Linked DNA regions of Homo sapiens: regions 1, 3 and 4 are each linked to region 2. Evidence: fine-mapped expression QTL. A gene starts in region 2. Each other region holds a variant in brackets. All regions are shown on one strand. Distances are between the middles of the regions.

The links. PIP is the estimated chance that this variant, and not a neighbour inherited with it, causes the effect.
Region 1: its variant is the best candidate, but not a certain one, in a credible set for the expression of ZDHHC14 in cerebellar hemisphere (GTEx, PIP 0.69).
Region 3: its variant is the best candidate, but not a certain one, in a credible set for the expression of ZDHHC14 in whole blood (INTERVAL, PIP 0.63).
Region 4: its variant is the best candidate, but not a certain one, in a credible set for the expression of ZDHHC14 in whole blood (INTERVAL, PIP 0.59).

Annotation. Positions count from the first base shown.
Region 1 is chr6:157,505,151-157,513,065 of GRCh38, reverse strand. All of the region lies in intron 1 of ZDHHC14 (zDHHC palmitoyltransferase 14), which reads right to left. Among named protein-coding and RNA genes, the nearest start is that of MIR3692, 20 kb to the left of the region's middle. RefSeq lists a silencer at 7,063-7,263. The variant C/T (reference allele first, on the strand shown) is at 3,550.
Region 2 is chr6:157,378,283-157,386,197 of GRCh38, reverse strand. ZDHHC14 (zDHHC palmitoyltransferase 14) reads right to left here and starts at 5,008. Exons shown (of 9, transcript NM_024630.3): 1 at 3,932-5,008. The coding sequence starts at 4,176. LOC124901446 reads left to right here and starts at 5,107. Exons shown (of 1, transcript XM_047419644.1): 1 at 5,107-6,884. The coding sequence starts at 5,497. The coding sequence ends at 6,387. RefSeq lists enhancers at 3,951-4,090, 4,849-5,460, 6,072-6,684 and silencers at 4,181-4,230, 4,741-5,630, 5,791-5,870.
Region 3 is chr6:157,437,250-157,445,164 of GRCh38, reverse strand. All of the region lies in intron 1 of ZDHHC14 (zDHHC palmitoyltransferase 14), which reads right to left. Among named protein-coding and RNA genes, the nearest start is that of ZDHHC14, 60 kb to the right of the region's middle. RefSeq lists a silencer at 6,592-6,792. The variant T/C (reference allele first, on the strand shown) is at 4,067.
Region 4 is chr6:157,537,747-157,545,661 of GRCh38, reverse strand. ZDHHC14 (zDHHC palmitoyltransferase 14) reads right to left here. Exons shown (of 9, transcript NM_024630.3): 2 at 2,917-3,077. Among named protein-coding and RNA genes, the nearest start is that of MIR3692, 13 kb to the right of the region's middle. The variant T/C (reference allele first, on the strand shown) is at 4,438.

The sequences.
Region 1 (7,915 bases), 130 kb before region 2:
ACAAAGTCCCGTATTGTTTATTCTGGAACACTGATATGAGAGTGATACACATGCCTTTTTCAGCGTTCCCAAATATTGGTGATTTTGTTTCATGTCTGGGTTCTTTTGAACTGTTGTCACTGATAGTGAAATACTAATTGTATATAAAGGCAGAAACATGCTTTTCCTGAGGTTAGGAAACATATGCAGCTGGAATCTATAAAATAAATAATTTCTCAAATAATGACAGGAACATTTTCAGAGTATATTATGTAGTCTAACCCTACATTCTGATGAGTGTACAGATTAGAAAATATACATACTGGAAGACGGATATATTTTTATCTGTTTTGACAAGTTTACCCATTTCTCTCCCTGTCTTTTTTTCTTTCTTTCTTTCTTTTTTGTGGAGAACTGGGACTTGCTATGTTGCCCAGGCAGGTCTTGAACTCCTGGGCTCAAGCTATCCTCCCACATCTGCCTTCCTTAGTGCTGGGACTGCAGATGTGAGCCACTGCACCTGGCCTCGCCCATTTCTAAATAAGCAATTTATTGTTGCTCTTCTTCCCAACAAAGTGTGCATGTGTGTGTGGCTCACGCATGAACTGTGAGCCACGGACTATGCTTAACACAGTGCAGAACGTGGCTCTGTCTTTGAAGGATGATTCACTCCAATCCTAAGGCGGAAAATGGCCAAATTAAGAGCAGAGCTGGTGATGAGGACTACCAGAGGGCTATGTGGCCGTAAGCTAAGGAAGGGGCTTCTGAGGAGGGCAAGTCAGCCCTACAGAGGGCCCCCCAGCGGCATCCAGGGCCAGCCAGGGCCATGGACCCCGAGCCAGGATGACTGGGTTCAAATCCCGGCTCCACACTTACTTGCCATGTGACTTTAGCAAGTTATTAACCTAACCTCACCCTGCTTGAGTTTCCTTCACTCGAACATGAGGATAATAATTGGACCTACCGCAGGAGGGAACTGCAAGAATTAAATAATACATATAAAGCATTTGTGACAGTGCCGTCACTATCCTCCTCCAGGTAGGCTCTTTATGACCTTCTTCACCGTTCCAGTTCATTACTTCGCATTTCGAGCATGTTGTTCATGCTCCAGTTCTAAGAAATCAAGACCACTGAGCAGCACAGCCAACACCTTCTCTCCCAGACATCGTGAGTGTGATCAATATCATCAGCATGATTAAAAGCCTATTTATTTATGACATTGTGCTAAGTGCTACACTAACACACACACAGAGGTCCTCTAGAAATTCCCAGCTCATAATGGACGATAACTGTAAATCCAGAGATAGAGCACATGCATTAGGCAAACGTGGAAATTAAATAGGCTGAACATTTCCAATATTTGCAAGTAAATGTACTATTATATAAAAATGTGGGCCGGGCGCGGTGGCTCAAGCCTGTAAACCCAGCACTTTGGTAGGCCGAGGTGGGTGGATCACCTGAGGTTGAGAGTTCGAGACCAGCCTGACCAACACGGAGAAACCCCGTCTCTACTAAAAATACAAAAAAAAAAAAAAAAAAGTACCCGGGCTTCGTGGCGCATGCCTGTAATCCCAGCTACTCGGGAGGCTGAGGCAGGAGAATCGCTTGAACCCGGGAGGCGGAGGTTGTAGTGAGCCGAGATGGCACCATTGCACTCCAGCCTGGGCAACAAAGCAAGACTCCGTCTCAAAAAAAAAAAAAGTTTCCTCATGCACTCTCACCACCACTTACCCCACTCCACGCTCCACTCTGAACAGAATGATTGGCTGTAGTTTACAGAAAATGGAACCAGGAAGCAAATAAACTAAAAGAGAAATTCCAGGTGCGGGCGATTCCTCTCCTGCTTCCCGCCCCACAGTTCTGTCTCACCTTCGCAATAAGCAGCCCGCCAGCCAAGAGGAAATGGTGGGTAAGCAACTCCATCCTCTTTGCCCCCACGGCAGGGCCCTGGAACCCACACAAAAAGAGCCGGACTTAGAAGCCGAGTCGGAGAAGATGCCTACTAAGGAAGAGGAAGAGGATCTGGCTCTGAGGCGGAGGCTGCGGTCGGCGAGGGTGGAGTTGGAGACAGTTGCTTTCCATGATTTGATTTCTAAGCCACAAAGGTAAATTATGATGAAACAAACATATACATTTTTAAATGCTGTAAAAAGCATGGGCAAAAACATGGGCAGGAAGCAGCCCCGGTATGGTTACTGAAACCGCTGAAGCGAGGGAGGTGTCTGAGGAAGGCAGAGGCCATTGGAAACTCGGGGACTGGTGGCCATCCCTGGGCGCCTGCCTGGTGGAGCTCTGCGCAATGAACGCCCCCCTTGCTGGGAAGGGGCGTGCTCCACGTGGACCCCGGGCCCCTCCCACCTCGCTCATCCGCGCTTCCTCTCTGCCCACCAGAGCTCTGCATTTGCTTCTCCTTATGCGGATTGCAAATAAGGAGGCAGGTGGAGAAAGAAAAATCAGCAGAGGCGACTGAGAAAGAGAGGTCAGAAGGTAGGGGGAGGCCCTGGAAGAGCAGCAGCAAAGAAGTTGAGAAAAGAAAGTTCCAGAAGAGGGCAGTGGCCCACCTGTCCAGCACTGAGGGACTTGGTAAGACATGGCCTAGTGGGTGTCCTGGGGTGGACAAGTTCACCCAAGACCACACCAGGACGGCTTCATGGAGCAGTGAGCATGGAAGGCTGCCTGCAGAGGGGCCTGTGTGGCAGGGGTCAGTGAGAGGATGAATGAGCATCTGGAACATTCTTTTCAGGGATTTAGTTGTGAGGAGGAGTGAAAATGGGGTGGAAGCAGTGGCAAGTGTGCAGCTGAAGTAGGGAATTTTATTTATTTATTTATTTTACTTATTTTTTGAGACAGAGTCTCGCTCTGTCACCCAGGCTGGAGTGCAGTGGCGCGATCTGGGCCCACTGCAACTTCCAGCCTCCGGGTTCAAGTGATTCTCCTGCCTCAGCCTCCTGAGTAGCTGCGATTACAGGCCTGGCCATCATGCCCCACTAATGTTTGTATTTTTAGTAGAGATGGGGTTTCACCATGTTTGCCAGGCTGGTCTCAAACTCCTGACTTTGGGTGATCCACCCGCCTTAGCCTCCCAAAGTGCTGGGATTACAGGCGTGAGCCACCGCACCCGGCCATGAAGTAGGGAATTTAACAGAGGAGAGGGAAGTGAGAGCAGAGTGGAGGCTGCAGGAAGAGACATGGCAATGAGGCTCTGGCCTCAGATTCTCCACCTGTCAATTCGAAGTCCTGCTACATGCCAAGTAACTAGCATGCCTTCCTTTTCAATTCTCTGTACCCAGTCTGCAAACATTATATTTTTTTAAAGATTATGAACCAATCCTATGAATGAAAAGGAAAGCACTCTATATCCAGAAAACTTGAAGGCCTTAAATGGGCAGTTTTGCACCTTTCACATTCAACTCTATCTCTCACAGTTTTATTAATTTCAAAATATGAATACACCTGTCATCAGTGTTTGAGATGGCATTTGGCTTGCAGGGCATCTTGGCGAGTAACAGAGAGGGAGTATCTGGAGACACACTGCCAGGTGTGAATCCAGCTCTGCCGCCTACTAACTGA[C/T]CTTGGAAAGTCATTTCACTTCTCTATGCCTCAGTTTTCATATTTTTTAAATGGGGACAATAAAGTTGTCCCCATTAAAAAAGTTAGGTTCACTATGTGTGTACATATTTGTTAAGCTGTATCTCACAAAGTGGTTAAGACTCAATATGTGTGTATACATGTGGCAGGCAGGATTCTGAAGAGGTCTCCCTGAGACTCCTCATCTGGATGCTGCTGTGGAAGGGGCTCTGCAGATGCTCCTAAGGTCACTATTCAGCTGATGGTAAGATGGGGACATCATCCTGGATCATCCAGGTGGGCCCAGGGTACTCACATCAGTGCTTAGAGACAGAAGACAAAGGGCGTAGAGGGGTGTTGGAAGAAGTGTGTTGGAGAGATGAGGCAGGAGGAGAGAGGCAGAGATTCTAAGGTGGGGAAGACTCTCCCCACTGCTGCTGGAGTGAAAGGAGCCACGAGCCAAGGAATGCAGGGGGCCTCTGGAAGCTGAGGTTAACCCCTGGCCAACAGCCGGGAAGAAACGGGAACTTGTGTCCTCCAACCACGTGGAACTGAAATTTACTTAAAACCTCAATAAGCCTGGAAGTGGGCTCTCTCTTTTTATTTTTCAAAGAAACTATAACTTATATCATCAGAAAAATAAAGCAAGAACAGGACACTAAAAAAGAACAGTTAGAGAACAAGAAGGAGTTTTTGGTACTGAAAGATATTGCAGGTGAATTTAAAAATTCATTGAAACATTAGAAGATAAAGTTAAATAAATTTTCCAGAAAGTGCAACAAAAAGATCAAGAGATGGATAATACAAAAGCTAAGAAAATTAAAGGATCAATACAAGACATTGGTTGGGTGCAGTGGCTCACACCTTTAATCCCAGCACTTTGGGAGGCTGAGGTAGGAGCATCTGATTGCTTGAGCCCAGGAGTTCAAGACCAGCCTGGGCAACATAGTGAGACCTTGTCTCTACAAAAAATATAAAATAAAAAAATTACTCAGACATGGTGGCACATGGCTGTAGTCCCAAGTACACAGAAGGCTGAGGTGGGAGGATTGCTTGAGCCTGGAGGTTGAGGCAGCAACAAGCCATGATTGCACCACTGCACTCCAACCTGGGCAACAGAGTAAGACCCTGTCTCAAGAAAAAAATACAACACATCAATATCCAAATGAAAGAGTTACAGATACAAAAGAAGTTTCAGATAGAGAGAACAGACAAAAAATAATAATGGGGAGGAAAATTATTGAAGGACATCTCCTAGAAATGAAAAACCCACATTTCTACATCAACAGGACTCACCACCACCCTGGTATTGATGCCCAACACAATGATTGATCATCATTTGAGAAAACAAAACCTCCAAAACACCAGCTGTAAAGAACAACATCTAAAAGCTTTGAAAGAGGTAAAGGAATGGTGGGGACAAGGTCAGGTTCAAATATTTAGTATATGGCCCTGGACTTCTGAATAGAAAATGTGGAAGCTAGAAGACAATGGAATCATTGCTTCAAAATTCTGATTGAGGATGATTTTCCATTCATATTTGTATACCCAACTTGACAATCAATCAAGTGTAAGATTGAAATAAACATATTTTCAGATATTTAAAATCTCAAAAAGGTATTGCTTCCTTAAGATGTCACAGGGTGTTTTCCACCAAAAGCAGGGAGGAAAATGATGAAGCTGAAGATCTGGAATGCAGGAACAGGAAGGATGTTCCTTGCCAAGGAGGATGCCCATCCAGAAGAGGGGCAAGGAAAACCCTCAGGATGATCATGACGGGAGACTCTGGAGCGACAGCAGTGCCCCAGGCCAGTCCAACTGAAGTGGAAGGAGGCTCAGATAGAGCTAAAATAGCAAGAATGGGTGCAATTGGATGGACATATTTTTACAGAGCTGTTGGAAGATGTGGAAAAGTCCAAATACAAAAACAAGTCAGGAGGCTGGGCACAGTGGCTCACGTCTGAAATTCCAGCACTTTCGGAGGCCAAGGTGGGCAGATCACTTGAGGTCAGGAGTTGGAGACCAGTGTAGCCAACATGGCAAAACTCCTTCTCAACTAAAAATACAAAAATTAGCCAGGTGTGGTGGCGTGCCTGTAATCCCAGCTACCCAGGAGGCTGAGACATGAGAATTGCTTGAACCTGGAAGGCGGAGGTTGTAGTGAGCCAAGATCACACCACTGCACTCCAGCCTGGGTGACAGAGTGAGACTCTGTCTCAAAAAAAAAAAAAAATGAGTCAGGAAATATAAAATGTTATATAAGGAAATATTCATAGTACAACCTGGCATAGGTGTGAACAATATTTACATGTGCAAAATAATTTAAAAATCTGGATATGGATTTAATAAAAATTTATGATATAGCTATTCTGAAGGGATTAGGGAGAAAGAGGAAGGGAAAGCATAAGAAAATAAAAAGTACACAGATAATGTCTAACATGAATGAACCAAGAGAGAAGTACATACATATTACTTAGAATACCAAAAACAGTTGAAACTGAGAGTAGGGGGCAGGGTCACAGGAGATGGCTGGTTTTGGTTATAAGTCTTTTAGCACAATTTGGCCTTTTAAACTATATGTTACTTTAATTAAAAACCAAAATTAAAAAAAAAATGACTCTACTTTCCTAGGTGCCACTTATCAATGGCCACATTCACTCTGAGTTGAAGGACATGGATGTTTAGGATACTTTATGCAAGCACAGTTGTATCCACTAGCTAATATCCTGAGTGGTTGTTTTCCTTTAGATATAGACAATAGCTCACATTAACATTCCCCCAGGGACCAATATAAAATATATCTGTCGTCAGCATATGAAGGCTCACTAAAGTTAATGGGCTTTTTCACACATCACCTAAGTTGTATACCTAATATACAACAGCAGAAGCAAATTAATAAATAAACTCTGGAAGATTCTAGCTTGTCATTGCTAAGTTTACCATTGTTTGCATAGTTCAGGGAGAGGACCTAGAATATAACTAAGGCAACAGGAAAATAATGTTTGAAGGGGATTAGAGAAGTCCACATCATCTCATGCACAAATAACAGTGTGAGCAAGAAGGCAGCTAATGTTAGCCTCATGCTGACCTTGCAGAGGGCTCTCTCCAACATCCAGCTCTTTGCAAATGGATTCCCAGAGTCAGAATATTGCATCTGAAAGAGACCTCAGAAATAGTCCAGTTTAACCCTTTCATTTCCCTAATGAGGAAACTGAGATAGGTTGACAAAAATAACAATTGTGTAATGTAGTAACCGCTGGCTGGACAGAGACTTCAACCCTGGACTCAGTCTGGGTTTTAGGTTGTGAATGAGACATGGATGTTTCTAAAGAGGGATAATGAGATTGTGCTGAGTCACACAAATGACACCAGAAATAGAACTTACTATTTAACCATGAAGAGATTCCATTCCAGACTAAGTGTGGGAAAAGCCTTTAACCACCCAAGCTACAGTGTTTTCCCACGGATGATCAGTGCCTAGAGAAGACTTTAATGAGAGGTGCAAGTTACCAAGCACAGGTGCTATCTACACTAGAGCTCATCTGCTGTATTTCTGAGCCAAACAGGCCCTGATCTCATTGACCGAGCTGCATTTGTTCAGTGTTTCAGCACTTGGGTGCACTCAGTTACATCTGACCAAGGGATTTTCTTGCCCTTCCAAATCATTCACTGAAAATGTGCTACTGGCAAATATCAACTCTGATGACTACAGAAACAAAACTCTTATACTTCTACACAAAGATGAAGACTCAATTTAATTCTTCGTTTAAACAAATTTTTTTTTTAACTTCTGATCCCTGCCTCCCTATCCATGAACAAACATTTCGCCAAGTCACAAGGACGTCAGGGTTTTAATAACTCATGGTACAGCCTTTAATCATATACTTTGGCCTAAATAGATTACAGCCACTGGTTCCCCCAACCACATGATGATTTGTTCCCTCATAAATTGTTAATTCATTCAGCAGGCATGGCTTCCTCTTACTTTGCCACTCTACTGCACTCAGTCACATTTTCTTAAGAACTCAGTGAGTTCTTTGTCATTGAGATGATGTGGACTTCTCTAATCCCCTTCGAACATTATTTTCCTGTTGCCTTAGTTATATTCTAGGTCCTCTCCCTGAACTACGCAAATGATGGTAAACTTAGCAAAGACTTTAAAGATTATTATGTAATATTTTATATGAATAGACAGAAAGTCATGAAGCCCCCAAATAAAACAATACTTCCAATCCTACCACCCAACTAAAGATTAGATCCCATTACCAATACCGTTGGATCTTACCTTCCAGACGACTCCCTCCCTAGGAAACTGTCCTTGCTTTTAAACATAGTTTTACCATGCACAAATGCCTCTGAACAATTTATT
Region 2 (7,915 bases):
CAGTCGTGAGCTTTTTCACAGTCACAGTTGCTTCTTAACCTACATGTTCCCTTCCTCAAAATGCTCTCAGAAAAGGGTGACCAGAGTCCTTGGGGGCCTACTTCTAAGATTTACTCTAACAATATGAACCATTTATTGAGCCCTTGCTATGTGCCAAACACTGGTACACAGTATACCGTATACTGTACTGTATATACTATACTGTATACTGTGCAAAGTATACATTTTCTATTTAATCTTCCCATCATTTAAAGGTAGATTATTATTAATCTCAGTTTACAGATTGGGAAACTAAGGCTTAAAAAAGACCAATCATTTGCCCAGGGTTATAGTGCTAGTAATAATCTTAGGGTCTGTCCTTCCAAAATCCATGCCTTTAACCAGTACCCTAGACTTGAACGAGGAGCAGCACAATTAGTCAGAAAGAGCACTGGCTTTGCAGCCAGAAGCCTTCCCACTAATTAGCTGTGCAACCCTAGGTGACTAACCTCACCAAGCCTCTGTCACTTCGTCTTTGATGTGGGAATAATCATTTCTACCCTGCCTTTCTCCAGGGGCTAAAGACTGTATCAACACCTGTTGCTGAGTTCTAGTAAGTTCATTTCTCTTGGACAAACTTTCTTGTCCATCTGTTCAAGGTCAGGAATGAGAGCTGGGATGAGAGAAGAATTGCAGACAGGGGAGGGCTAAAACTAAATGACTAAGTTATTCACTCTTTTTGTCACACATTTTATTTGCTTTTGTGTAACTGGGGAAACGCAATTCTAATGTTTGACAATGAAGTTTACTAATATTAAAAGCTATCTAGACATGATAGCCAGGTGCGGTGGCTCATGCCTATAATCTCAGCACTTTGGGAGGCCAAAGCAGGAGATCGCTTGAGCCCAGGATCATAGTGAGCAACATAGTGAGACCCCTATGTCTCTACAAAAAATACAAAACTTGGCTGGGTGTGGTGGTGCATGCCTACAGTTCCAGTTACTAAGGAGACTGAGAAGGGAGGATTGCTTGAGCCTCGGCGGTCAAGGCTACAGTGAGCCATGATTGTGCCACTGCACTCCAGCCTGGACAACACAGTGAGACTCTGTCTCCAATAAAAAGCTATCTAGACATGATGGCCAGGTGCAGTGGCTCACACCTATAATCCCAGCACTTTGGGAGGCCAAGGCGGGAGGATCACTTGAGGCCAGAAGTTCAAGACCAGCCTGGGGAACATAGGCAGACTCCATCTCTATAAAAAATTAAAAATAAATTTTTAAAAAAGCTATCTAGACATGAAATTAAACAATCAAAATAGAGGACCACATAACTAGAGGAAGGCAGGAGAAAGGCAGGCCAGGGGCAGGCAGTACTGGCATTTCCTCTGGATCTCGCTTAGGGATTGGCCTGTTGGTATTTTCTTCCTCTGTATGGGGTTAACTTGTTCTTTGGTCTCTAGCAAATTAATTTGGTCAAATTGGTTATTTAATTTATGAATAAAGAATTTGAAAGCAATACAGTGACAAATATTCTCAGCTAAACCATAATATTCTGTAGCTCGAATAGCCTCTGATTTTTCCAAACAGAGGCATCATACTAGGATGGGCCTCTTGTTTTCTTGAAATGTCAAATTGCCTAGTTGAAGCAACAACCATGGAGAGCAAACACACACACATATACACACATACGCTCCCACAGAGCTGATATAAAAAAGATGCTGCAAATAGCAGCTAATAAAATCCCGGCGCACACATTTATTCCTACAGTCATCAGTTAACATAACACTGACACAGAGAAAGATCCTTAACAACCTGCTAGTGAGGACTTTTGGGAACTCTTGAAAAAACACACGCAGAGATCAAGAAACGAAAATGAATTTATGATGGTTTGGTTAGAAGCTATGTTTGAATGAAGAAAATAAAAGATGTTAAGTAATAACTGGGGGGATCCCTAAGCATACAGTGGGGACTTGGGTATATACAGAAAATGAAATATTCATCATCCTCCATGGAGCACACTTGTGGCTGAAGCTCTGCAACAGAATCACAAAATTAACCCATTTTCTCCACAGTTAAAATCGCTAAAAAGAGCAAAAGTGCCAATTTGGATCTGTTCAAGATTTTTTTTAAAAAACTGTAGGAACACAGTTAATACTCTGCAACTAGAGGACCACCTGTAACTAAATTCACCATTAGAGAGATGGCATTTCTGTTAAACCACATGGCATCACGCTTCCAGTGCCAGTGTTCATCCTAACAGATAACGTAAACTCATGGGGAACCTCTATGCCCCTTCTTCCAGTTTCCAAGGTCTGTAAGGACAAGAGGCTGCTCTCAATGGGGGCCCATGGGAGCAACAGCAGCATGAGTAGAGTGTGTCTCCCTGCCACTCTGAATGCCTGTTCACACCCTTCCCCTCCCGTCCACAGGTCTCCCCACTGACTCTACCTACTAGTGTCAAACAGACACAGAACCTAAACATCAAGGGGGACCCGGGAACTGCACATACCATCGGAAATGGGGAAGAGGAGTTGTGTGTGAGAAGGACTGGGGAAGGGGAATTCGCTTAAATCAGAGATCCTTCTCATCGCCTGGTCTAACTCAGTCCTCTTAAAACTGCTAATCAGCGCACAGTGTCCAGATACAAAACGTTTCTCCTGAGAGTCAGAGGGCTTTGAGCGACAAGTATTACGTTGTCAAGAGATCATTCATTTCCAATTGAGACAGCATTTGGAAGAGCAAAAGCCAGGCACAAAATTAGAGCCTATTAATCCTAATCAGAAACAAAAGTAAATAAATTCAAAAGGTTTTAATTGAGCCTACCCAACAGGAGGAGGCGGAGACTGAAGGAGTATCAAGCCCAATAATAACCAGGATTTGGGAAGCCCAAAGAAGAGCTCCCTATAAATATATTGCTTTCTTTAAATTCTGAGGGGAAAAAAGTAACTCCACCTTTCATTGAACATAGGATACCAGAAATTACATAAGGAGTTGCATTCCAAATGTTGGATGCAAAAAAAGCAACCAAAATTGATTGGAATGTGGTTTAACTGCTTTATCTAATCACTGCTAATAAATAAGAAGACCTTTCATTAGTTGGCAGGAGGACAGTTGCTACTGGCCAATTTGATTTTCCTGAAAACGGTGAAGACTTGCATGCGCTTTTTATCCCCCCAGATATAATCCCTGAAGTCCAGACTGTTTCTGGAATCGGAAGTTGTCACGTAGTGTCATCCTCTTCCTTAACAGACCTAAGGTCTCCTTTCACATGTTCCCAAATTGTTTGTTTTGGACACCTTTTATTGCAACCTTTTTGAAAGTGAAGAGTTTAGAAACCTCATGGCAAATAAGAAATTGTTAATCCAGAGTGAGCATGTAGGAGGCTGGAGAATGCAATGATCTATCCAGGGCACACTAGGCAGCCGACACTTTGAAACCTGAAATAGCCAAGATTCCTCAATTATTCGTCGAAGTTACATGGGAGATTCAGTCAACTGAGCTTAAGAAGATGCCCTATATGTTGTCAGCAAGGGGGAAAAAGTCAGTTCCATGTATCCCTGACTTAGGAATCTATCGCACCCCACCTTCCCACGGCAGGCTACATCTGGGCTGATTTGCTGGGTCCCCAAACTCGGTAGAGAGCGCCCCAAGGATCAGGGACCGGCGGCCCCACCTGCTGGGTCCCATCCGCCACCTGGATTGGCAAGGCCTGGCCCCCCTTGCAAGTGGACCCCTTCCCTCCCTGCTCCCAGAAGCCCAGCCCAGAACGGCGTTCTTTCCGGGGGCCCAAAAGCAATCAGACCTTTAAAAGAAAAAAGAGGGAGCGCAGACTGGCATTATATAACAATTTACAGTAGATAAGACTTCTAGAAAACGAAAGCAGCCCGAGGAGGGGCGGGGGACAGGGGAGACCAGGGGAGTGCGGCGTCGGGGGAGCGGTCGCCACCACTTACTCGAAGGCGAAGAAGAGTCCGCTAGTGACCAGGATGAGGACGAGCGTCAGGTAGAAGACGCCCGTCTGCCGGGCCATCATGATCCTCCCGTTACAGAAGAACTTGTTTCTTCCCGGGAACACCTCCCATTTCCTCCGGGCCGCGATTTTCTTCTTCTTGTGGGGCGACTCCATGGGGGAGGAGCTGTGGGTGCTGATCTGGCTGTACTCGCAGTCTTTCATGGGCCCGCCGCCGCCGGGAGGCATCCACGAGGGCAGCCGGCTGGGGGCGCACACCCCCAGGAGCCCCCCGGCCGCGCGGGCCCCGCCGAGCCACGACCGCCGCCGGCCGCCCGGCCGCCCCCCGAGCCGCGGCGCCGCGGCCCCTACACGGGCTCCCGGCTCGGCGACAACTTTGCCGAGGACACCCAGGTTAACCCTCCGGGGAGCCCAACTGTCATAGCAGAATCCCCGCTCCGTGAGGGGACGGCGCTGGTCCGCAGCCCGCGGCAGCACTCCTCCGTCGCTTCCAGCCCGCGTCCCGGGGCGCGGGGCTCAGCCCGGCCGGCCCCCGGGTCGCCGAGCGCCCGCCCCCTCGCGCGGCTGCCCGCTCGGCCCCGCAGCCCCCGGCTCCCCGGCCGCGCCTCGGCTCTGGCCCGCCGACCCCCGAGCACTGCGCCCCGAGGGGACACGAGGCGGCGGCCCCGGCGCCGGCTTCCTCGGGAGCCACTTCTGCGGCGCGGCCAGGTTGGGTCCACTCCTTCCTCCGGCAGCGGATCCTCCCAGGAGAGAGCGCTGGCGACTGGGCGGCCGCGCGCGGCACCGGCAACCCCTCCCAGGGGTGGGGACAACCACGCACGTTTTTCTGTCAGGAGCCTCTCGGCGAGAGCCGGGGCGCCGCTCGCACCGCGACCCGGTGTCGCTGCGCCTGGCAGCCTAGTCGAATCCGCGGCCCCCGCGCGGGGATGCGCGGGCCGAGGGCGGCGGCGGCTCGCGGGCCGCGCGGCGAGGGCTCCCTTGCTCCCTCCTACCCGGAGGAAGCGGCCCCGGCGCGAGGAGGGCCGCGGGGACACAGCACAGACACTTGTTTGCAAGGCTCAGCCCGGCGCGCGCGCGGCGCTCCGAGTGGGTCCGCCTCCTCCGGGCCGGGTGGGCGGTGGCCTCGCGCCTCACCCGCGGCTCCTCCTCCTGCTCCTCCTCCTCCTCGCCCGCGAAGCCAGGGCACCGGCGCAGCGAGATTCCAGCCCCAGCCCCCTCGGGCGGGCGCCCTGGGGTGTGGAAGGCGCGGGGCTCCCTGTGGCATCGCCCAAGTAGGGATGGGGTCGGGCGCCCGCGGCCCCGCCGCGCAGTGCGCTCCTGGCCGACTTCAGTCCGTCTCGCGGCTTCTTCCGGGTTTATCCCGCGCAGCAGCTGCCGCCTCGGGACACGCTCATTCCCACGGCCACCGGCAAGCCACTCCTGGCGACTCCCCGGGACCTGAGGAGCCGCGGCGCGGAGGTGACCCTCCCCGGCCTGCGCCTCCCTTCTTCCTCCTCCCCAGCTGGGCGCGTGGTCGCGTCGCCCGGGGACTCTGGTGATGCCCGAGAAATGGGCTGGGGGTGCCGGGTGCCAGGATGGGGTGGGGCGGCCCTAGGCCGGCCTGACTTCGGGACCGGGCTGCGGGCGAGGGTCTCGGGGCCCGGCTCGGCCGGCTTCCGGGCCGAGAAAGAAGGGCAGAGGAAGCGGTCAGGGTCCCCTCCGGCCCCGGCCTCCCTCCCGGAGTATAAGCCCTTGGAGGCCAGGTTTTGGGTTGCTGCCGCCCAGCTCTTTCGGTCTCCACTTCTCCCCACGGACGTTTACAGCTGCTCGCTTTATTTCTCCCTCCATTCCCCCGTGGAGCCCCCTCGGCAGCGGAGGGGTCGCGTGCTTCTCCTCTCCCGCCTGCGCCTCCCCCCTTCCCACCCGACAGCCCAGGAGGAGCTGCGGGCGCGGCCCTGGGACGGCCGGAGCCTGGGGCTTCTGCTCGCTCGCGCCCTCCCAGGCGTTGCCGCGGGTCCGAGCCCCCGCAGAGGTGGGCATAGCCCCGGGGCCGCAGAAAACGAAGGCAGCTGGGCAGGGATGCTCAATTTCCCGAGCCCCACTTTCCTTTCACAGCCCACTGGGATGTGTAGTTCTTCCGCCCGCAGGCCTGCGCCGAGGAGAAGCACGACTCGGGGCCTTAGAAACTACAAGTCCCTGCATCCCCCGCGACAAGGGCAGGAGAGGCGTGGTGCTGGGCGTTCTGGGGCTAGGTGGTGGGAGATGGGAACCAACAAAGGGGGTTGTGGGGAACGGTGCCTTCTCTGTACTGGGCAGTTTGCACGTTACACATGTTCTTTGTCTAATCTTCGCCGGAACCCGGTGAGGCATTATTGTATCCAGCTTAGAGAAAGCTTAACTACTGGCCAAACATCACAAAGCTCCCAAGTAGTAGAGATGGCATCGAACCCAGAGCCCTAAGTATGTCCCTTACAAAGCGTGCCTCAGTGAGGAGTGTCGAAGGGGGATGAGATTGGCTTATCCAAGAGGGCCAGTTGGGAGGAGCTGTGGTAAGGAAAAAGTGATGGGAATAGCAATTAGAGTATGACATGCAATTACAAGGAGTTTTGAATACAAGTGAAATTTACAGGGGTCCATTCCAAAGCCGGTTAGAGTCTAGGGAGAATGGATCTTAAGCACACGATAATAATTGGGTTTTAATTATTTTAGATATTGTATGAGAGACAAGCATATTACAGGGACAATTAAGTATTTGTGGCTGGACTAGTTTTAAAAAACCAACTGGAAAGCTTCATACATTTCAAGTGAAAGCTCTCATATGCTTTCCTGTCCTTTAGCTAATGAGATCAACGGGGTATTATTCTTATTCTGTTTATTGCAAGCACCTTTTCTGTGGGTGTCCAATTAATATAATAGATCCATTGATTTGATGGCATTAAAAAAGACTCCCACTCTTATTCTCAATGAAACCGAATTTTTCTGGCATTATGGTTATGCTTTTAAAAAGTCCTTCCTTGTCTGTTAGAGATATGTACTAAAGTATCTGCCAGCGAAATAATATAAAGTCTGAAATGTGCTTTAAAACACACCAGCCCATCCACTCCCCTCCTCCCACCCACCCAGCTCCAGACATGGAGGTATAAATGAAACAATTGGAAACTGTTGAAAATAGTTGACCTTGGGTGACATGTACTTGTACTTAATTATTTATTGCTGCAAATTGCCACAAACGTAGTGGCCTTAAAACAAGACAGATTTTTCTCACAGTTTTTATGGATCAGGTGTCCAGGTACACTCAGTCCCCCACTTAGGGTCTCACGCCTGCCATCAAGGGGCTGGCCAGGCTGCGTTCACATTCACTGGAGAAGAACTGGCTTCCACTCTGACTCCGGGCACAGGCAAAATTCCTTTCCTTGCAGCAGTAGGACCGAGGGCCCTGGCTTCTTGCTGGCTGGAGACTGGAGACTGTCCTCAGCTCCAAGAGGGAACCTGCAATTCCTAGAGGTTACCTGGACTTCATTGTCACTTGGGCTTTCCGAGCACAGCCACTTATTTTGTCAGGCCTGCAAGGAGAGTCCCCAGAGTGAGTCTCCAGCAAGACAGAATTTTATATAACATAAAGCAATCCCACGGGGGCAACTTCAAATGTGAACATTCTGTTGGCCAGAAAGCATGTTTTGCACACACTCAAAGGGAGAGGAGTACACAGGGCATGAACCCTAGGGTGAGGGACACCCCGGAGTGCATCCACCACAGTGTACATGAGAGTCCATTATGCTTTTCTTACCTACCACATCTACTCATGTTTATGTTTGACATTTTCCATAATAAAAAGAAATGAATTCGTTTTAAAATGTTACCTAAAGTTTCCACAGCAAATAAGATATGCTGATATGATTTCTAAATAGCTGATACAATTGTCTGTAGTTGTCTTCCAGGGGATAACTTTTTTCTTCCCACTCCATGTGTACTAAGACCTCTGCGGTTA
Region 3 (7,915 bases), 59 kb before region 2:
AGATAGATAGATATGAAGAGTGTGTGTGTGTGTGTGTGTGTGTGTGTGTGTGTGTGTGTAATATCTGGCAGTGCTAAGACCCATGCCAGAGTCACCAGGTGTTTCCCTTGTGGTCCCTTCCCCAGCCTGGACTCTGTCTACATGGTCAGAATTGCTGCCCTCAACTCTGGCCTCCTCACACTGGGATCCCTGTTATGTTTTGAGCCCAGCTTCTGGCCACATGCCCACTTCTGGGCTTTGCCTTGATCAGTACATTGATGCTCCTGCCTGACCTTTCAATGACTAGTGACCCCTCCCGTACCCACTTTGGTCTCATCCTTGAGCAGCTGACTAGACCATGGAAGGCCCCTCCACTCGGCCCTCAGTGGGGAATGTGAATGCTGTTTCTACCAAAGATGCCCACAGAATGTCTTCTGCAACTGAGGTGGGAAAAGTGTTACTGACTTTCCTGGATGTAGGGGCAAAGTATATCCCTTTTTTTTTTTTTTTGACGGAGTCTCTCTCGGTCGCCCAGGCTGGGGTGCAATGGTGCAATCTTGGCTCACTGCAACTTCCACCTCCTGGGTTCAAGTGATTCTCCTCCCTCAGTCTCCTGAGTAGATGAGATTACAGGTGTGCACCACCATGCCCGGCTAAATTTTCTATTTTTAGTAGAGATAGGGTTTCACCATGTTCGTCAGGCTGGTCTCAAACTCCTGACCTCAGGTGATCCACCCGCCTCACCTTCCCAAATTGCTTGGATTACAGGCGTGAGCCACCATGCCCAGCCTAGTATATCCTCTTACTGAGTGTTCTCTTGGAGCCTCTCCCCAGTCTCAGAGCTCCCTGCCTCAATGTGTATTCCGTGGTGTCCGCTACCAAACAGCCCATCCAATCACAAAAGGCAGAGACTGCAATGTGTACCCTGGGATTCTGTCATTAAGTATGATATGCTCACTAACTGTAGGCTTCATTGCGGGTGTAGAGACCATCTAATAATATTGCAGAAGGCTGTATAATAATTTGGAGTCAGTTTAATTTATATTAAGATTGTTAGCTCTATCACGATTACTGTTTGACTTTGGGCAAGTTCCTTAACCTCCTGCTCATGAGATCATTGTGAGGAATAAACAAAATATTACATAAAGACTTAGTGCAATGCTGAGCACACATAGAACATTTATTAAATGCTAGCTGACTCTGAAAAATAATAAGATAACAATACCATATTCATTTACTAGTGCTTACGGTACACTAGGCTCTGTTCTGAAGTGTGTTATCTGGGTTATGGCATTTAATCTGAAGCAGAACCCTAGAAGGCAGACATCTCCACTCTACAGAGGAGGAAAACTGAGTTCCAGAGAAGGTAAGGCACTACCCAAAGTCATGCAGCTAGTAAGAGGCAGAACTGGGATTCAAACATGAGTCGATCAATTGGGCCAGAGTGTATCAGATCAATAAGAGCCATGAATATCCATGTGCAGCTAGTTCATCTTAGCTTTGGGTGGGAAAATACCCTTGGCCATTCATTTTAAAGCTGGACATGTGCTAAACCTCACCACATAGATTGGTTTCACCACCAGTGATGGCAGCCACTGTGAGTCATTCAAAGAACAGGTCTAGTGGTTTCCTGGCTTATGTTTTTGGTTTTATTAAAATTCCACCATCTGGTTTCTTCATAGCTCACGGTGCTTTCCCTTAAAAGAATGCTGAGGTTGAGGTCAAGGGATAGCCGCAGAGCAAAAGGGATGGGGTTCAGGATAGGATCACCCCGGGTGCTGCCACAATGCTCCCCTTCACACAGGCAGTGGGACCCTGTATTAGTCCATTCTCATACTGCTATAAAGAAATATCCGAGACTGGGTAATCTATAAAGGAAAGAGGTTTAATTGACTCACAGTTCAGCATGGCTGGGGAGGCCTCAGGAAACTTACAATCATGGTGGAAGGGGAAGCAGCACCTTCTTCATAAGGCAGCAGGAGAGAGAAGTGCAGAGCAAACAAGGAAGAGCCCCTTATAAAACCATAAGATCTCCTGAGAACTCACTCACTATCATGAGAACAACATGGGGGAAACTGCCCCCATGATCCAATCACCTCCCACGAGGTCCCTCCCCCAACATATGGGGTTTACAATTCAGATTACAATTCAATCTGAGGTTTGGGTGGGGACACAGAGTCTAACCATATCAGACCCTAACCCAAGAGGCCTGGGGACAGGCAGTTACTTGATTGGCTTCAAACTAGTAACAGAGGAAATGACTACCTCAGTCTGCCCAGTGATGTTCCAGATCAAGCTCTGGAAAAGCCTTCCTTGAAAAAGGTCTTAGAATTGTTGCTATTTAAAAAATAAAATCCACCAGGGGTGCTGCAAGTGGCAGAGGCTGCCTCTAAGAGCGTACCTGCTGAGTAAGAGCCAGAAGGAGAAGAGCAAATTGTTCTTCAGGAGGCGTCTGCTGGGCGGGCTTCAGACTTGGGCCACCTTTGGCAGGGGCAAAACAGCACGTAACCTCGTGCCCTCCAGGGTACGCTTTCTACATCAGGAGAAAATCGCCCAGGCAAAACACTGATGGACTGCAAACAACTTTTTCTTCTCTTTAGTTAATGGAAGTGATATTTATCTTGCCACCAACAAACCGGCACACTGGGAGAGCGGGGCTTAGAGTTTCGAAAGCCAGGAGGAAAATGGTTCTTGCATTCCATGACTCATCTTTCTCTTACCAAAGCAATTCTGTAGTAACAGCCATAGTTCCTACTTCATGAATGTAGCGTATGGAAGTTGTTTTGTTTTGGTTTGGGTTTTTTTGACAGAGTCTCGCTCTATCGTCCAGGCTGAAGTGCAATGGCGTGATCTCAGCTCACTGCAGACTTGACCTCCGGGGCTCAAATGATTCTCCCACCTCAGCCTCTTGAGTAGCTGGGACTACAGGTGTGCACCACCATATCCAGATAATTTTTGTATTTTTTTGGTTTCACCATGTTGCCTAGGCTTGTCTCAAACTCCTGGGTTCCAGGGATCCTCCCCACTCAGCCTCTAAAAATGCTTGGGATTACAGGCATGAGCCACCATGCTCAGATGAAGTTTTCAAAAAACTTTATGAATGTAATCTATTTCTTCAACAGAGCACTGTTTCTATTATTCTGAGGGCTGGATAACAAGCATCACTATATCCATTCTATAGTTAATAAATCTGAGGCATCAAGAGGATAAAAGATTGGTATCATGAGTTAACTGTAATGCTAATGCTAAAATATTGTTTCCACGAAACAGAAATCTTTTCTGTATGGAAATCTCACACACACATACACACATGGACTAAGGAATATTGATTTTTTCTTTTCTTTTTTTGATTCGGAGTCTCACTCTGTTGCCCAGGCTAGAGTGCTGTGGCACAATCTTGGCTCACTGCAACCTCTTCCTCTAGGGTTCAAGTGAGTCTCCCACCTCAGCCTCCCGAGTAGCTGGGATTACAGGTGCACACCACCATGCCCAGCTAATTTTTGAATTTTTTTAGAGACAGGGTTTCACTATGTTGGCCAAGCTGGTCTCAAACTCCTGATCTCAGGTGATCCACCCACCTTGGCCTCCCAAAGTGCTGGGATTACAGGTGTGAGCCACCGTGCCTGGCCAGATTTTTTCTTTTCTTTCATCCGTTTCTTTTTTGTTCAAGAAGCTGTGTCTAGATTTGCACATGTGCTTGTCAGAAAGAAATTAACATAGGAAATTTCCTTTCCTCACTCCCACACAACACATCTGCCAATCTAACACTTCCAAAAGCAGTGAGCAATGAGGAGGCTACAGCAACAGAGAACAAATAACCAGATTCACAGAATTTGGAAATAAGAACAAGTGTTTGGTGTCTTCCTGGGAACAACTTCTAGCTGAAGAGCTCTCGTCTCAAATGATCGGAAACCTGCTGGGACAGAATGGAGGATTTGCAAAGCCTACAAAAATCTGAGCCATGAGCGATCCTTCCAGACAAAACACTATCTCTTATTTTCTATCTCTGCCCTGACTTCCACCTCCTAAAAGGTGTGGTTCCCTCTTTTCAACTCTCACTAGTGGCTCACTTACGGACACAAAACTA[T/C]CACAGCCACAAAAAAGAGACAGAAAAGGAAATCTTGGAAACTTAGATTTCCTCTGGGTTTACACTGAAAAGACCCCCATAAGTCACATTCCTTTTCGTTTGTTTTTTTCCCTTTTTATGAAGATAAAATTCATATATGGTAAAATTACCCATTTAAAGTATGCAATTCAGTGGCATTTGCTATAACCACAATGTTGTCTTAGCTCAACTCTCCCTAATTCCAAAACAGTTTCACCATCTCAAAAGAAAACTTGTACACATGAAGCAGTCACTTCCCATAAAATATGTGATAGCTTCTGTCTTCTTTCACTTAGCACCTGTTTTTAAGGTTAATCCATGTTGTACCATGTATCAGTACTTCATTCCTTTTTTATAGCTGAGTAATATTTCATTTTATGAACATCCCACAATTTGCTTATCCATTAACTCATTGATGAACATGTGAGCTGTTTCCACATTTTTGCTATTGTAAAGAACGCTGCTGTGAACATGTGCATGTTTGTATTTTTTCAGTATTTGTATTCAATTGTTTTGGGTATATTCCTAGAAATGGAATTGCTAGGTCATATATTAATTCTAAGCTTAATTTTTTGAGGAACCTCCAAAGTGTTTTCTACAGTGGCTGCAATATTTTACATTCCCACCAGCAATGTACAAGGTTTCTAGTTTCTCTATGTCCTCATAAACACTTGTATGTTCCTTTTATTTTTCAGTTATCACAATCCCGGTGGGTGTGAAGAGGTATCTCAGGGTGGTTTTCACTTGCATTTCCCTAGTGACTAATTTCTCTATTTTGTCATGTGTCTTTTGGCTTGCTGGTTCTTCTTGCAGAAATGTCTATTTGAGCCTTTTGTCCATTTTTAAATTGGGCTGTGTGTATTTCTGCTATTGAGTTGTAAGTGTTCTTTATTATTATTATTATTATTATTATTATTAAAGTTCCAGGGTACCTGTGCAGGATGTGCAGGTTTGCTACATAGGTAAACGTGTGCCATGATGATTTGCTGCACAGATCAACCTATCACCTAGGTATTAAGCCCAGCATGCATTAGCCATTTTTCCTGATGCTCTCCCTCCTCCCACACCCCACCAAGAGGCCCCAGGGTGTGTTGTTCCCCTCCCTGTATCTATGTGTTCACATTGTTCAGCTCCCATATGTAAGTGAGAACATGCGGTGTTCGGTTTCCTGTTCACGCATTAGTTTGCTGAGGATAATGGCTTCCAGCTTCATCCATGGCCCTGCAAAGGACATGATCTTGTCTGCTTTTACAGCAGCATAGTATTCCATGGTATATATGCACCACATTGCCTTTATCTAGTCTATCATTGATGGGCATTTGGGTTGATTCCATGTCTTTGCTATCGTGAATAGTGCTGCAATGAATATATGTATGCATGAACCTTTGTAATAGGATGATTTATATTCCTTTGGGTATATACCCAGTAATGAGATTGCTGGGTCAAATGGTATTTCTGGCTCTAGGTCTTTGAGGAATCACCACACTGTCTTCCACAATGTTGGAACTAATTTATGTTCCCACAGACAGTGTAAAAATGTTCCTATTTCCCCACAGCCTTGCCAGCATCTGTTGTTTCTTGACTTTTTAATAATGGTCATTCTGACTGGTGTGAGATGGTATCTCATTGTGGCTTTGATTTGCATTTCTCTAATGATCAGTGATGTTGAGCTTTTTTTAATATGTTTGTTGGCCACATAAATGTCTTCCTTTGAGAAGTGTCTGTTCATGTCCTTTGCCCACCTTCTAATAGGGTTGTTTTTTCTTGTAAATTTGTTTACGTTCCTTGTAGATTCAGGATATTAGATCTTTGTCAGTTGGGTAGACTGCAAAAACTTTCTCCCATTCTAGCACTCTGCAACTGTAGTTGCCATTTTCTTAAAGGCCCTAAGATGTTTTGAAAATGAAGAACGGAAATATTTAGCAGGAAATAAGAGATATAAATGGATATGTTAGACAGGGAACATGACAGAGTTTCTCTGGATGGGGAACTGTACCAAACCCAAGTGACAGGGTACTTTTTTAAAAGTTGCTCAATGACCCTCACATGAACTGCCAGAAAAACTCTTTGTTGGCAATATGATTCTCTAAGCAGTGGAGTGGCTAACTCAGCACGAATGCTCAATTCTAGATGAATTCAGTTCTTGGCACTCTCTACCGCCCAGACAATACTCTGAATTTATCACTTATAAAATATATTTGTCCACAGCTTTCTCTGCAATCCTCCACAGCCAAACACATCCATAAATTCCACAGCTCTAGCTCCAACTGCTATTGGAAATAGTACTCTAACATCCTGACACCAACACGAATATTTTGGCTGCTTTTAATATGACATCCAGACTTTCGGATTTCAAAAACAATGCCTGAGATAAGCAGGAAATATCTTGTGGTACAGTGGAAGGAAAAACTTTTTATTCCCTGAGAAAGTCTTACAAAGACACAAGCGTCTTGTACGAACAATGTTAAAATGTAAAGTTTAATATGGTTGTTACTATGGTGATCCTCACATTTGCAAATTCACAGGGGGGTTTCAGCATTGTGCTGTACTTTGAGATAACTGTGAAGGTAATTTGTGAACTTCAGCTGATGAAAACTAGAGATGTCTGCACGTGGCATTTGTCTTCAAGAGTCTTGCTGATTTTCTGTACTTCCAAATGCAACTCAAAGTCCAGATTTTAACCTTACAATCTTTAAAATTATCTTAATATGGCTACCTTAGAGATTTCCTTCCTCTCCCTGCAAAATAAAATTAATCACTCCATTTGAAAAACAATCCTATTTCTAGAATCTACAAGAACTTTCCATAAAGCATTCTTACCTTAAATGCTTGCATTCTTCTTGCCAGGAAAGCCCAAATTTGTGACACCTTAGCAACCTGTTCAAGAAGTATATTTTTTTCTGGGTAAATTACACTCTTTTCTACTTTCTCATTTTTTTTGAAGATTTAGAAATTATTCACAATAGGATTAATTAAAACTACATGATATAATAAATGCTACTGAACTGTACAGTTAAAATGATTAAAATTGTAAATTTTATGTTATGTATATTTTACCTCAATAAAAAAAACATGATAGTTCAGTACACCTAACTTTTAATTAGCTTTATACCTATTTAGAAAACCAAGTAAATTATAAAATAAAAAGAAAGTAAACCTGGATTTTTTTTTTTAACTCTACCATCCCATGTAAATACTAAGGTCATAAATTTAACCAACTTGTACTTGTCCTTCTTCTGTAAAAATCTGACCTATATAATCACCTAATTTAATATGGGGAAGAATGAATCACAGCACACATAGAGCTATATTTTTTGGTTTTAAATATATGAATTTATTATCCCGTAGCAATCAACTAACACTGTTGCAGAGAAGAGTTAGTAGCCTTTAGTCATACCTATTTGAATCTATTTTACCCTGACAGGAAAGGTCGTTTTACGAGTAAGAAATGCAGAGACTGAGCCTGTGAGAGAAGGATTCTTTAATTGGGGTCTTCCAGGGACCTGTGAGCCCAGTGAATTGATCCAAGTATTGTATACAGGCATATGCAGGAATTCTTCTGGGAAGAGCACTCACTGCTTCCTTCTAAAAGGATTAAGAACTCCAGTATCACTACAGAGACAAACCTGTTCAAGGCTGGAGACAGAACAGGGCGACAGCCTGCCCGGGACACTCGGGAGCACAGCTCAGCACCGCCATTCATCTTCACGACACTACTATAAAGAGAATCTAGGTGTCCTCTGGAGGGAAAGTGGCCTCCTTATGGAAGGAAGCATCCGTTAACCTTATTTGGCATTCCTGCATGGCCCCTGCAGGTGCCCTCTGAAAATG
Region 4 (7,915 bases), 160 kb before region 2:
TCCCCTGTCGCCCAGGCTGGTGTGCAGTGGCGTGATCTCGGCTGCAAGCTCTGCCTCCCGGGTTCATGCCATTCTCCTGCCTCAGCCTCCCGAGTAGCTGGGACTACAAGTGTGTGCCACCACACCCGGCTAATTTTTTTTGTATTTTTAGTAGAGACGGGGTTTCACTGTGTTAGCCAGGATGATCTCGATCTCCTGACCTCGTGATCTGCCTGCCTCGGCCTCCCAAAGTGCTGGGATTACAGGCGTGAGCCACTGCGCCCGGCCTCCTCCTCCTTTTTTTTTTACATCTTCATAGAGGTATAATTTATGTACCACAGCAGTCACCATAGAAAGTGTGCAATTCAGTGACTTGTAGTGAATTTATTGCATTGTGCAACCATCACCACGACTTAATTTTAGACCATGTTCATAATCCCAACAAGCTCCCTCATGTCATGTGCAGTTAACCTGCACTCCTACCCTCCCAGCCCCAGGAAATCACTAATCTCCTTTCTGTCTGTAAAGATTTGTGCTTTCTTTGACATTTTATACAAATGGAATCACACAGTACATAGTCTTTTGTATCTGGCTTCTTTCCCTTAGCAAATGTCTTTAATGTCCATGTTGTAGCCTGTATCAATACTTTTCTTCCCTTTTATTGCTTCATGGAATCCAATTGTATGGATATACCACATATGGATCATCAGTTCATCCTCTGATGGACATCTGGGTTGTTAGGTTTCATGCAGCTATGAATATTCATATACAAGTCCTTGTGTGGACATATCTAGGAGTGGAGTTGCTGGGTCATATAGTAATGGTGTTTAGCTTTTGGAGAATTCTGAGAAACTGCTTTCCAAAGTGGATGTACCATTTTACAATCCCACCAGTAATGTACAAGGGTTCCAGTTTCTCCAAATCATCACCAGCATTTGTCATTGTCAGTCTTTTTGATTAGTGCCATCCTAGAGGGTGTGAAGTGGCATCTCACTATTCTATTTTTTGGTTGTTGTTGTTGTTGTTGTTGTTTGACACAGAGTTTTGCTCTGTTGCCCAGGCTGGAGTGCAGTGGCACCATCTTGGCTCACTGCAACCCTCCGCCTCCTGGGTTCAAGCGATTCTCCTGCGTCAGCCTCCCCAGTAGCTAGGACTACAGGCTCGCACCACCACACCCTGCCAATTTTTTTTATTTTTAGTAGAGATGGGGTTTCACCAGGTTGGCCAGGCTGGTCTCAAACTCCTGACCTCAGGTGATCCTCCCACCTTGACCTCCCAAAGTGCTGGGATTACAGGCATGAGCCACCGTGCCCTGCCTCATCCACTTTGTAAGAAAGGCAGAAAGTCTGTTCCTAATCGTGCTGATTTTGCAGATGCACCTGCACTAACCTGGAGATGGGGATCACTGCAGGAAACTGCATCACCCCCAGTATGGGAGCTGGGCCCTTGCACTGAGAAGAGGATTTTCAAGTTACCTGCTCATATATTGTAGGCATAAACCATACAGTTTTGAAGGAAACTAGGTTTGACTTCCCTCTCTCTCCTCAATGATATGAGGAGCTGGAAAGAACAAGGTCTGAAATCTGGAAACCTGGGTTCTAGGCTCCAGTTCTGCCACTTTCACCCATTTAAGCCCCTCTTGGGGGCTTTGTTTCCTTATCTGTAAAATGGGTGTAATAATAAAGTTTTCCTTACTAGGTGGCTTAGATGTGGAAAAAAATGCAGTGATAGCCATGGATGGGCCTGACAAACGATTAAAGTGCTACAAAATGTGAGCCTTAAAATTATGCACTAGCATGCCCTGTCTTGGAATCCCATGATGCAGGGGCTAAGAAAGAGATTGTCTGCCCACTGCTGCTTCTCCCTCCCCCTCCTTCCTACCTCAGGACACAAGACAGCTGCAGTCTAGCAGATGACACCACACACTCCACACACTCCCATTTTACTGCTCCCTTTCCAGGCAGCAGGGATGAAGGATGAAGGCAGATGTCGAGAGAAGGACAAAGCTGTGCTTTAGTACTTGGGGAATGGTAGGACCAGAATAGGCACTTTTCAGCAAGATCCACAGCTCTATCTTCTTACACTGTAGACAGGGAGGTCCCTCCAGCTTTAGTGAAGGCTGCAAAGGAAAGTCCATAGAATAGGAGGAATCCTGGAAGAGAATTATCTCTGCCAAGTGATTTTTCAGGCCTAAACATTATGTTCACACCAAGTCATCACAGCTCCTCTGCCATGCTTGTGAAATTTACCAAAGCACCACAGCAAAGCTATACATTCACAATCACAAACTTTTAAGAGCAAGAAAAAGCACTCCTTTTAATTAAAAAAAAAAAACTGTAAAAGTTTGTTGTGTAAGGGATTAGGATCTGTTTTAATATCTTCAAAATGGGTTGTAATAAACTTTAGTATAGGTTTTAATATCTAAGGAAAAATAAAGCTATTCATCTCAATACATATCACAGATACATGTTTATTATACCTAAATAAAGGAAATTCTCAATCCTGGCCTGGATAAACAAGAAAGCTGCCTAAGATGTAACTTTCCTAGATTTATATCATGGAAACTGGTCATGCTCCAAGGATTGCAAAAGGGAGAAAGGGCAGCAACCTACAACTGTAATCTCTCGGGGTGGAGGCTGCTTAGTAGAGTGGAATCAAACACTTGGGTTTCAAAGAAACATCAGAAGCACAGCTCACACTGATGCTTTGCTCGAGTGGGCCTGCAGTCCTGCCTCCAGGATACCTGTCCCTCCAGCCTTATATCCCACCTCTTCTTCAGCTCATCCTGCCCACCCAGCGAGCTAAGGAACGCTGACTTCTGGCCTCCTTCCTTCCCAGCGCTCAGCTCCTCCTGCACAGCCCTCGGCCTGCCGTCCCCACTGTAGCTGGGCCCAGGCGGGAAGTGACCAGAGGCCATGGGCAGACTTTCAGTGTTACCTATTTGCCTTTCCAGATCGGCGGCTTCATCAGGCGTGGCTCGTGGGAGGACTCCGGGGTCGCTGAAGCTGGTGCGGAGCAGGGTCCCCATCACAAAGAAGAACAGGATGCCAGCGACTGCAGGGATGGCAGGGGTGATTTTCACCGCCAGGTACGGACAGCTGCCGACAGGTTGGACAGACCGGAGAGAAGGGGAAAAGAAAGGAAATACAATGTTAGGAATCAACAGTAAGCAGTCTTTATCTTCTAAGAAATCAAAAGCTTATTTGGAGGAGAGAAATTGATTTCCATTAAAAATTCATCTATGTGAAAGATTTACGTTTGGGGAGGTCTGCAGTTCTGTCTTACAGACAATTGAACCCCCACTCCCCAGTATGACGCCCAAGCCCTCTGCTCTTACAGGAAGATGCTGGCAGAAGAATGAAAATAGTCCTGCTTGTATAATCAGTCTAAGACGCACAGAGCTTGTATAAATAGACACGTGTCCTCTGTGCTGTAAACACGGTTCGGGAGTCTATGAGATCCCCCTGCCCTCCCCTGGGATTACATAACAGAAGAAGACACCAATTTAGAATGATCTTCATGAGAGCCAGCCTTTCCCACTTGGGTCAAATGACTCGGGAACTTTCAGCCAGCACCAAACGCTGAGGACTGTACACACACTTTCAAAGGGCAAGAAACCAATTTTCCATGTTCTGGAGGTAATCTATTCCAAAGTGAATGAGCTATGGAAATGGACTTGCAGGCAGGTTTCGGAAGAAGATTTAAGGGATTTCAGCAGCTGGAATAGAATCATCTCATGCTTTTCCAGAGGGCATCTGAGCTATCAATGGATGAACATGGCCCAACTCTTAACTCGACCTTTTCACTGCTGTCAGTCTGACATGCTGACGTGAAGCAGGGATTGTTATGAGTCAGGGAGAAGTGCCACTGGGACAGACTAAACTCTACACGAGCCAGCCTGGGAACCAGTGTCTGACATTTGGTCTCAGATCCAGGTATTCTAGAGCTGGAGCAGTTCTTACCGTGGCCCCTTGATGCAGTCAGATGCCTGGACCTAAGTGAAGGATGGGATCTGCAGTGACCACAGTCAGTCCATTGTCGCCACATTAAATAACATCATGGGCATTGGGGAACATGACGCAGAATCACGGAATTAGGACATCTGGCGTGGAAAACAATGCTAGATTGCCCACCTCATCAGAAGATTCTCTTCTATGTTCTCAAGACAAAACAGAGATGGGGAGCTGGAGAAGAAAGGATTGGGAAGCTCAGCTCTGCTCAAGACTAGGAAGCAGACAGGGCTCTTGGTCTTGGAAGCCCTGGGAACCAGCACCCCACTGCTGTTCAGGTCTCTGATGGATGGCAAACGGATGCTGGCACGAGTCTGGGACTTGAGAGCCACAAGCCGTGATCCCCTTTGCTGAGACAAGTGATAGAACATTAGTGCACCAGCCTTCAAGAGGCCTGCAGACCTAGACACAGCTTCCTGGAGCAATCGCTGATGTTGACAATGTGGAC[T/C]GTGGCTGTGCAAGTTTCCTAGCATGAGGAGATGTACAGCGAAGTATTTAGGAATAAAGTGCCATGATGAATGCAGCTTACTCCCAAATAGCTCAAAAAAATATTGTCTAAACAGAGCAAATGGGATCAAGTATTAGCAAGAGGTGAATCTGGGTAAAGGGTGAATGGATGTTCTTTGTACTACTCTTATTCTTGTAACTTCTCTGTAAGTTTGAAATTATTTCCAAATAAAATGTTAAAAAAAGAAACACAGTCTACATTGAAGGCATGAAATTACCCTGGTATGAAATTATATATATATATATATATATATACACACACACACACACACACACATACATACATATATATCTATATATGTTATATATATAAACCCTGAATACATATAATTTTAGTCTAAAATAATCTACTTTAGGGGGAATTTTTTGTTACAAAATGGTTAGGGAAAAGAGCAACTGTGTAGAAAAGAATTTTCCAAAAAAACTTAAATTCACAATTCGACATAGTTTGAACAATGGCAGTGAGTAAAACAAGCCCACGTTTTTCCCCCTTCTCAAGATTAATGAATTTGAAGATGATGTTGGCACAGCAAAGCCAGTTTCAGCGAGGGCACAGCTGGACAACGTGAACCAGACAGACCCGGTTAGGAGAGAGTGTTCCACCTCAGGTGTTGACAGCTGTGATTTAACTCTATGGAGCTTCTCCAAGGATGGCTACTTGTGAATGGCCAGAACCCTCCTGTGAGGGTGACTTAGTAGATCTTAGGCTTTGGTGTGCTTATTTTTTCCTTTTTGGGTCTGAGACGCAGCTTGGTGGACCGCAAAGTCCACCTGCTCAAAGTTGCAAAGGCTGCCTCTTGCTCTTACAGCAAGTTCTAGCATGCTTTGCCCTCCACCGTTCCCTGTCCCAAGTGCACTCTCTGCAGGGTTGGGATCTTCCACAGCCACCCCACTTCCCCAGGCTGATGCCTCTGCGGCCTCTCATCACCTCCACCCCCTAACCAGGATGTCCCCTGCCACACTCTCACTGCAGGGATAATACACTGTAGATTGGTATTTGCACTTGAGCACACACTGATTTGTTCAGAGCCATCCCAGAAAGGAGGAAAAGGCAAAGTCCAGTTGACGCGGGGAGGCCTACTGCCTGCCGGGTTCTCTAACTGCGTAGTGGGCTGTTGCACTTGGACAAATCAGGGTATGGATCCGAAATGCCTCTGTCTGTGTTTCCCTGGGAACCTGCTCCTGCTCCTGTCCCCGCAGGAAATCTCAGGCAGGTCTAGTGACTTCTCTGATGATAATATGAAGGTAATAGGAAGTCCTTGTCGCTTTAAGTAGCAAACAGTGCCATTTAAGCAAATGAAAGAGTAATAATCCCAGTGAATAACGGTAACTTCTACCTTGATGTGAAGTTAAGCCCCCTCCACTACCCCAGCTCGCCAGCTGCAGTTTCTGGCCCCTCCACGGTGGAGAATAAAGCAGGTGAAGTAGAGAGGGAGGCAGGAAAGAGCCTACAGGAAGAGTTCTGTTACAAGGCGACTATGTGCTCTGGGTCTAGGAGATGGTTAAACCGGCTCTACCTAGACTCGCATTGGTGAGTGCTTTGGACGCCCCGGGGGAACCTAGGTGCATGGCCCACTTGCAATGTCTTCCTCTTTCCCTCTTCTTAAATAGAAACGGCCAGCTTCCTCCCACTCAGGGACTTCCTTCCACGCTGTTTTGCCTTCCAGTCCCTCCTCTCAGAAGCCCTCTTTGTCTTCTCTCCGGGGGACAGCTGGAACAGTGATCTGTTTGTTTGTTTATTTATTTATTTATTATCTTTCTGGAGACAGGGCCTCACTCTGCTGCCCAGGCTGGAGTGCAGTGGTATGATCATGGCTCACTGCAGCTTTGAACTCCTGGGGCTCAAGAGATTCTCCCAGCTCAGCCTCCTGAGTGGCTGGAACTACAGGTCCTCACCACCACACCTGGCTAATTTTTTGTGTGTTTTGTAGAAACACTTTGTTGCCCAGGCTGGTCTCAAACTCCTGGGCTCGAGTAATCCTCCTGCCTCAGCCTCCCAAAGTGCTGGGATTACAGGAATAAGCCACCACACCCAGCCTAGAACAGTGACCTCATACCTGCCTACCATGATCCCCTCCTTCAATCTGTCCCAACCACCACCGCCAGCTCCAATCACACGTGTCTCTGCTCAAAAGCCCTCCATGCTTCCGCCGTTCCTACCAAATGAAGCTCGAGCTCCTTATCTGGTGTCCAAGTCCCCCACAGTCACCTTCTCTCCCTCTCTCTCACTGCCCCCTCCTGAATCCCAGCAATGGCCACACCTAACATTTGGGCGTCTCAGGCAGGCACCCGCTTTCACTCACCGCCAGCGCTGCCTGTCCAGCCCACGTGTCTGGAACACCCGCACCTCCCATTCAGCATGTTGATGCTCCCAACTTTCCAGTTCCAGCTCAATACCGCTTCCTGAAAAGCCTTGGTAGAGTTTCTGGGCTCACCCCCTAAGCAGAAGGGATCGCTTCTTTCTCTGAACCCCCACCGTGTTTTTCTTTGCTCCTCTCCTTGGACATGTGGCTATTTGTGGACATGCTCCATGCACCTCACTAGATTAAAAGTCCTGGAGGGTGAGACTGGCTCCTGTTCCTCTTTGTGTCCTTTGTAGCACCTAGCAGGATGCCTCGCATGATGTAAAATGCAACTAAGTTTGATAAATATTTGTTGAGTAGCTGAATGAATAGAATCCATTTAGTGAATTTTACTGTAACACCTGAAAGAGGAGGAGAGTCAAGTCACCCATACCCTCAGCAACCACAGACCTGGTCTAGAACTTCTCTACTTTTGTCAGCTCGCTAGGTCCTGTAACTTCCTTCAGACAGATGCTAAGGCCCAGTTCCTTCTGCGAGGCTCCCTCAGCTGAGAGGACAGGATATTCCTCAGCTCGCTGAGCCGAGTGTGCCTCATGTTCACCTTCTGTGGGCATTTGCTGGAACCTCTAAGACCCTCCATGTGCTAAAGTTCTAGTAGATGCAGCACCATATGTTGGTACAACTCTGTATAATGCTAGGTGCTCTGTGACAGTCCCGTTCCACCAGCCTCTGTGTGTGACAGAGGACAGTGCTGAGTTTGTCCTAGAAATCCTCAACAACTCACTTTTTATAAAAGTGGCAGAATTCCCAACCCTAAACAATGAGGTCAGGGCTACTGAGACACCTTCAAAATGCTGCTTAGAAAAAGCATAGAGCATCTGTAGTCCTTGTGGTAAAGACAAGGCAATAAGCAGACCCTGCCCATGACTGTGAATGTTAACCTCCTGAAGGAGGTGAGACTAATGGGACATCCCAGTTGACCCACAGACTGGCACGGCTTCACAGCTGAAGGAAGCACTGTGCACAGTATGGCAAATTCTTAGTCCGAGCTCAGATGACTTGAAAATGGCTCCTCCATATTTCTGAGCAACTGTGGATGGGAACTCCAATGCTGAG